2 linked regions of the Homo sapiens genome follow. The protein of the gene in region 1 interacts with the protein of each later gene in a biochemical or structural test. Each region holds a gene or a part of one and is shown on either strand. Other genes may lie near its edges.

Region 1 (4,129 bases):
TCCTGCTTGCTTGATAATTATTTTCTAGGGAGGTATATACTTGGTGTACTTAGAATAAATTCAGCTTTACTGGGTAGCAGGAAAGTGATGCTCTAGGATTATATGCTAATACATATTTACATTGCAGACAGATAGCAGTGTTAAATATCTTCAGTTCTCCTACTCATTGGTCTCTGGTTTGAACAATACAGAGATTCCATAGCTTTGCTGAAGTTCCTAAAGTGCAATAAAGACTTGTCTTGAAGGAAAAAAACCCTCCTTTGCTTACTCCAACCCAGTTGTAGTAATTATGCATACCCCTGACATTCTTTACACAGAATCACCTGTTTATATCACATAAAATCTCATAGACTTTAGTTGTATGTAGTCTGCTTAATAAAAGTAACTATAAATATATTCGAAGATTCTTTTGCTTTAAAGTAGATTCCTAGGTTTAGATTTGGATACTAGGTTTCATTGGTTGTTACAGTATGTTTATGCCCTCCACATGCTATATTACAAACAGTAAGAGATATGGATAATGTTCCTGAATTTCTTTGATAAGTAAGTATTTTCTTAAGACAGTTTAGCAAATTCCAGCTGAGGCCATGCATGGGGAAATATGGCAAAAGAGTATGTTCTCTAAAGTTACTTGACAACTTTTCAGATGAGGTTGAGTAGATCCACAGGGTTGGAGATAAGATTACAGCATTATAGAGTGCTAGCCTCTGTGTCCTTCCAGATGATATTCTGTTCAAAAGTCTAATAAATCTCTTTTGTCACCTAGCATAGGTAAATAGAAAATCTTTACTAAACCAATTCTTATGACCAGATTTTAAATCTATAGGTATGATCCATGACCCCTTTTAAAAAAGATATAGATTTGAATTGATGTTGCTATTTTAACAGGAAAAACTACTCTGGCTGACTGTCTTATATCTAGCAATGGAATCATCTCCAGCCGCCTAGCAGGCAAGGTATGTTATTATTTTATAAATACTTGTTGCATTTCAGTATTAGCTATCAACAATGTGATGAACCATTTTCTGTGTTCTTCAGCCATCCAAAAGGGTATAAAACATAATTCTTGCGTCTAAAAGCTGCCAATCCATTTTGCAAGATAAAAATGCTGAGGAGAAAAATAGTTACTTCTGTATTGCTTTGTATTGCTTTATCCTAAGTGCAAAAGTGAGTTTTTGCAGCAAGCAAATGATACACCATTGTGGAAGATTTCACAGCGCAAGAGATTCTTTGTAGGTGAATGAGTTGAGTGGTTTGAGGAGAAGACAGAAAAGCTACCAGGTAGTGGGAAATAAGACGGATAAAGGCTAATTTGTGTGTTGTGCTCTATTTGAGTGGAGTGTTTGCCTAGAGACTAGTGACAGAGAAAACATACTGGCAGGGAGAATAAGATTATAGAAGACCTTAAAAGTTAACCTAAGTATCAAAGGAAAGCTGCTTGTGCCTGAGGATTGTGATGAAAATAGTGGGTTTTTTGGTTTTTGTTTTTGAGACAGGATCTCACTCTGTTGCCCAGGCTAGAGTGCAGTGGTGTGATCATGCACGGCTCACTGCAACCTCGCCCTGTTGGGCTCAGGTGATCCTCCCACCTCAGCCTCTTGGGTACCTGGGACTACAGGTGCACACCACCACACCTGGCTAATTTTTTGTAGAGACAGGGTTTTGCCATGTTCCCTAGGCTGATCTTGAACTCCTGGGCTCAAGCAATCCTCCTGCCTTGACTTCCCAAAGTGCTGGAATTACAGGTGTGAGTCACCACACCTAGCCTGAAAATAGCGTTTGAGGAAATAAAATTAAAGAGATCTTTATTTGTAGCTATGAGTTGAAAGGGCTTGGAATAATTTACTTGGCAGTAGAAAAATAAAGATATATTCGTTTCCATAATGAATTTAGGATATGATCAATAGGGTTTATCAGGTGACAGAGAATAGAGAGAAGAGGAGACGGAGAAGCAAAATTGAATCCACAGGGTAGACCCAATAGACTTGAAGATCGATTTGGGAATTGATGTGTGGGTTGGGAGGGAAGCTGGCCCAAGATACTATCTAGAGGAGGCTGAAGAAAACTAGGTTGAGTGAAATAATGAAATGCTTATATTTTCCCCACTTGAGAATTTAGAGAAAGTACAAAACTGAAGTAAGTAGATGAAAGGAAATAGTAAAGCATAAATTAATGAAATAGTAAACAGACATTTTATAGAAAGGATCAGTGAAGCCAGAAGTTTGTTTTTGGAAAAGATTAACCCAGCTAACAAATACAAAGAGTGAACCCTAATGTAAACTATGGACTTTAATTAATCATAATGCATCAATATTGGTTCATCAGTTGTAACAAAGGTATCACACCATATGCTAATACAAGATAGATATAATAGGGGAAACTGTGTGGGTGGGAGGAGAGAGTATGTGGGAACCTTCAGTCAATTTTTCTGTAAACTTAAAGGTGCTCTAAAAATATAAAGTTATTAATTTAAACAATTACTAGCAATATAGACAATTTTTGATTCTCTTGACTAGGAAACTTTTTTGTTTTGTTTTTCATTGACATTGTTGAGGAACATTTGACACTTTTGACCTGGTAATGTTCCTAATGTGGCTCACTGTACTTTGGACATATAGAAAGCATAGTATATATAAATAAATATTTTTGAATGAATGACTTTAAAGAAGAGTAACACAACTGACAAAACACCAGCAAGATGATCAAGAAGAAAAGAGAGGAGGCAGAAATATGTGATACCCAGAAAGAAAAATGCTGCAGAAGTTAATAAGGTAATAATAGGATATAATGAACAACTCTGTGCCAGTAAACTTAAAAGTGCTAAAATGGAAAAATGTCTGGAAAACATAACTTGCTAAAATGGAGTCAAGAAGAAATAGGAAACTTGAATTATTCTATAGTCATTTAAGAAATTGAATTGGCTGGCAAAAATCTTTCCATAAAGTAAAGACCCAGATGGTTTAACTCTCTAGTTCTGCCAAACATTCAAAGAATAATTTCAGTCCTACTTAAACCATTTCAAAATATAGCAGAGAAAAACCCAACAATCGGCAGTATTCTCCAAATCATATGAAGATAGCATAACTTTGATACCAAAAGTCTGTTAAGGATAGTACAATATAGGAGAATTATATACCAACCTTATGATTATGGATGCAAAAATTATCATCCTCATTAACAAACAATTCAGCATAGTATAAAAAGATGATTATTCATATCCAAATCGAGTTTATCCCAAGGAATTCAAGATTGGTTTAACATGTAATTTCACTATATTAATGGATTAAAGGAAGAAAATCATGATCATTTCAACAGATATAAAGACATGTAGTAAAATTCAACATCTATTGTGATAAAACCTCTTTGCAATGTAGTTACAGAAGAGAACTTCTGTAATCTGATGTGGGATATTTATAAAAAACCTAAAATGAAGATTGAACTTAATGATGAAGTGTTAAAACTTCTCTATTCATAGCCAGGAATAAGGCAAGAATGGCTGTCACACCCTTCTGCTCATTGTGTTATAACTTCTACTTTAGATTGTACTGGAGGTTCTAGTTGCAGTGATAAAGCTGGAAAGAAAAATAAAAAGTGTGAATTTTGGAAAGGAAGAAAACAAAAATGTAGATAAATTGCTAGGATATTAGTAACAATTTGGCAGGTTTCAGGATACGAAAACTGTTGAAAAGAAGTATACGTGAGCAATAAATAGGTAATATACAGTAATTTAAAAACGTAAACCATTTAAATAGCATAATAAATGTACCTGTGCCGGGCATGGTGGCTCATGCCTGTAATCCCAGCTACTTGGGAAGCTAGGCAGGACAGTTGCATAAACCCAGGAGTTTGAGGCTGCAAAGAGCTGTGACAGCAACTGCACTCCGGCCTGGTGGATAGCACAAGACGCCATCTCTTCAAAAACAACAACAATAACAACAAAACCTATGAGATATTGGAGAAAACTTAAATGGAAGGATATACCATATTTACGTATTGGCTGTCTATTTTTTAAATGACATTTAAAAAATATTGATCTGTAGATTCAGCAATTCCAGTAAAAATTCCAACAGATTTTTAAAAATTTCAACTTGATATGCTGATTTAAAAATATATACAGAAGAGCAAATAA
Region 2 (3,600 bases), on another chromosome or scaffold:
CCAGCCTGGGCGACAGAGCAAGGCTCCATCTCGGGGGCGGGGGGGTGGGGAACAACTGTAATAAAAATAACACACTATGTAGTAACGTAATAAAATTATCACACTGTTAACACTAACTCAAAGAAAAAACAGAATATAAAATTGTATCTTCACTTCGAAATGAGCATTTAGAAGCAAGAGAAGGAACACAAAGTAAAAATACTTCATGTGAAATTAATTTTGTTTTGTTGTGCTTGCTCCATAAAAAAAGCTTAAGTAGTAAAAGCACTCTTTTTACTAACTGTACTTTCAAAGGCTCACGGTTAAACTTGTAAAAGATTCTCAAGTAACTGACCTTACACCTCATTTTTTTTTTTTTAAGAGAGATATGCAGGGACCTGGCTTCAAACGTTCAACCTGGGAGCAATTTCAAAAGTCGAGGCCTGAAATTTAGGCTTTACAGGTGCAAAAGTCCTAATACACGTAGGTAAAGTGGGAGGGGTAGTTTTCTGTCTAACCCCCTAGCCTCAAAAGGCAAAAGCCAGGTCAAAAGTAGGGATCAGTCCTCCTTGCTCTCAGCGGCGACTAGCCGGTGCTGTCAAGTGCAACAGTCTCCGAAGGAAAGGGACCGAGGACGCCACTCCGCCCGGAGAGGGTCTCAGTAAAACGTTTACCTCCCCTGCCGCCCCAGGGTCCTTGCCCGCCGAGTGCCCTTACCCATCCTCCTCAGAGCCGACAGGAGACTAGGATCTCGGACCTGGATAGCCCGATGATTCGCACTGGTACCGCGAGACGCACCGAGCTACCTCGCCGCGTTAGCGGCGTACCGAGTGCCTGCAGACCTGTGGGCAGCCATGACACTGCCAGGCCGGTCCTGATTGGTTCAGAGGACGAAGAGGTGGGCCCAGAGGAAAGCCCAGAGCTCCGGGAAAGGAAGCCAGTGCCCGGTGCGCTCTCGGCCCTGCTCCGATTGGCTCAGAGGGGAAAGGGGGCGTGCCCAGAAATAAGCACCTCCCAGAGTTCCAGGCGATGAAGGCGGAGCGCTTCCGCCTCCATTTGGATTGGCTCAGACTGGGAAAAGGCGGGCCCAGAGAGAAATGATTGGCATGGGAAAATTAAAAGAGGAAAGGAGCGGGGAGCGGGGGAAATGCTATGTGGGCCTGTTTGGATCTTAACTGAAATAAACCGACTGTAGAAAGGCATTATTTTTGGGAAACCCGAGGATGGACTCGCTATTAGATGATATTAAGGAATTGTAGTTAATCTCGTCGCGTGTATCTGTTAAGGGCTATAGGCTGAAGTATTTAATGCTGAAACCATATGATGGTTTCTTTAAAATACCCCCAACCGGCCGGGCGCTGTGACTCAAACCTGTAATCCCAGCACTTGGGAAGCCGAAGCGGGAGGATCGCTTGAGCCCAGGAGTTCGAGACCAGCCTGAGCAACATAGTGAGACCTCGTCTGTACAAAAAATTTTTTTTAATTATTTATTTAATTAAATTAGCTTGGCGTGGCCGCTCACACCTGTAGTCCCAGCTACTTGGGAAGCTAACGCTGGAAGATCGCTCGAACCCAGGAGGTCGAAGCTGCAGTGGGGCCATGACCCTGCCACTGCACTCCAGCCTGGGTGACAGAGTGAGACTGACTTAAAAAAAAAACTGTAAATAAAAAAGCAACAAAAAAATGAAAAAAGAATAAAACAAGGATGGCAAAATGTTGATAGCGGGGTGATGGGTACATAGAAGGTTCATTACACTTTTTTGTCTACATTTTATGTTAAAATATTTCTATTATAAAAGGGTGAGTAAATAAAAATATTTATTATAAAATAATTCTATTATAAAAAATATTTATATTATAAAGTGGGTCTGGCCCTTGAATTCCGCGGAACGAGGTGGTGCCAACGCTGTGTTTTAACCCGGTCACTAAACATCCGCGAGCATCCTGTCAGAGCTCTCAGCTCATTGGCGAAAGTAAATACGCCAAGGAAAAGCACCTCCCTTTTTGGGCGTGGAAAGATGGCGTAAAAAGCCACAATACGCAGGCGTCATCGCTCACTTTTCCCCTCCCGGCTTCTGCTCCACCTGACGCCTGCGCAGTAAGTAAGCCTGCCAGACACACTGTGACGGCTGCCTGAAGCTAGTGAGTCGCGGCGCCGCGCACTGGTGGTTGGGTCAGTGCCGCGCGCCGATCGGTCGTTACCGCGAGGCGCTGGTGGCCTTCAGGCTGGACGGCGCGGGTCAGCCCTGGTTCGCCGGCTTCTGGGTCTTTGAACAGCCGCGATGTCGATCTTCACCCCCACCAACCAGATCCGCCTAACCAATGTGGCCGTGGTACGGATGAAGCGTGCCGGGAAGCGCTTCGAAATCGCCTGCTACAAAAACAAGGTCGTCGGCTGGCGGAGCGGCGTGTGAGTAGCCCCCTCCCTCGGGCCTGGGCCTGGGCCTGAGCCGTCACCTCCGAGGCGGCCTGTCTCTGCCCAAGTCGAGTGAATGGGCCAGGCTGGGGTGTTGGCCGGGGAGGAAATGGAACATTCCTGCTGTGAGCATGAGACGTCGCTGTCCGAGCTTGGCGCCTAAGCCAAGGGTTTCTTCTTTATTTGGTTGGTTCGGATTGGGTTGTTGGTTTGGGGTTTTGTTTTGTTGGTGTCATAAAAGCTGCAGCCAAGAAATCTCGTAATTGTGGTCCTTTTCCTAGAATAATGATGGCTGAGAACCTAGTCTTACGAATACTGTCATAGTTGTGGGTACATCTGGTGTCATAGATCTCAGTAGCCCTAGCAGTTTAAAGTGCGTAGTGTCTTCACTGCTGCCATCTAGGGACTGGCATTCCGTGGCAGCAGCTGTCTGCACCCCACCCCACCCTTGTGTTTCTTACGTCCTCCCATGACATTTTTCTCCAGTGAGCAAATGGTAAGGCAAATACGGTTCTGAGTTTTGAAAATGTTCCCTCAGGCCGATGCGGGCAGTTCACTTGAGGCCAGGAGTTCGAGGCCAGCCTGGCCAACATGAAACCCCATCTCTACTAAAAATACAAAGTTAGCCGGGTGTGGTGGCGCATGCCTGTAATCCCAGTTACTCAGGAGGCTGAGGCGGGAGAATCACTTGAACCCGGGAGGCTGAGGTTACAGTGACCCGAGATCGCGCCATTGCACTCCAGCCTGGGCAAAAACAGTGAAATTCCATCTAGGGGCGGGGGTTGGGGGGTAAGAAAAAGAAAACTGCCCTCTACACTAAAGGTCATCAGGGGGATTTGTTGTGTCTTGCCGTTCATGTTGTTGCCATCTCGTATTTAAATGTAAATGCATGTCCAAGTTTCAAGTATATTCACATAGGACTTTCTCTCCTGCCCTCACAAGGGAAAAAGACCTCGATGAAGTTCTGCAGACCCACTCAGTGTTTGTAAATGTTTCTAAAGGTCAGGTTGCCAAAAAGGAAGATCTCATCAGTGCGTTTGGAACAGATGACCAAACTGAAATCTGTAAGCAGGTGGGTAACAGCTGCAGCATAGCTAACCCTAATAACCATTTATAACGTATTTGTAGATATATTAAACATTAAAGGCTGTTTTTCTGGAGGAAAGACTAACCAAGCAATAATGTGAACTGCACAGTGTCACTTC

Evidence for each region.
Region 2: the proteins of EFL1 (region 1) and SBDS interact in a biophysical measurement, tested with the Homo sapiens proteins (2 studies listed by BioGRID and IntAct, with this or other methods).

The regions. Positions count from the first base shown.
Region 1 is NC_000015.10:82,255,915-82,260,043, reverse strand, and holds part of EFL1 (elongation factor-like GTPase 1), read left to right. Parts: intron 1-888; coding exon 889-956; intron 957-4,129. UniProt on the Homo sapiens protein: GTPase involved in the biogenesis of the 60S ribosomal subunit and translational activation of ribosomes.
Region 2 is NC_000007.14:66,994,079-66,997,678, reverse strand, and holds the start of SBDS (ribosome maturation protein SBDS), read left to right. Parts: upstream 1-2,092; 5' UTR 2,093-2,261; coding exon 2,262-2,389; intron 2,390-3,337; coding exon 3,338-3,467; intron 3,468-3,600. Other genes in the region: S-adenosyl-L-methionine-dependent tRNA 4-demethylwyosine synthase TYW1, read right to left, coding at 697-700. UniProt on the Homo sapiens protein: Required for the assembly of mature ribosomes and ribosome biogenesis.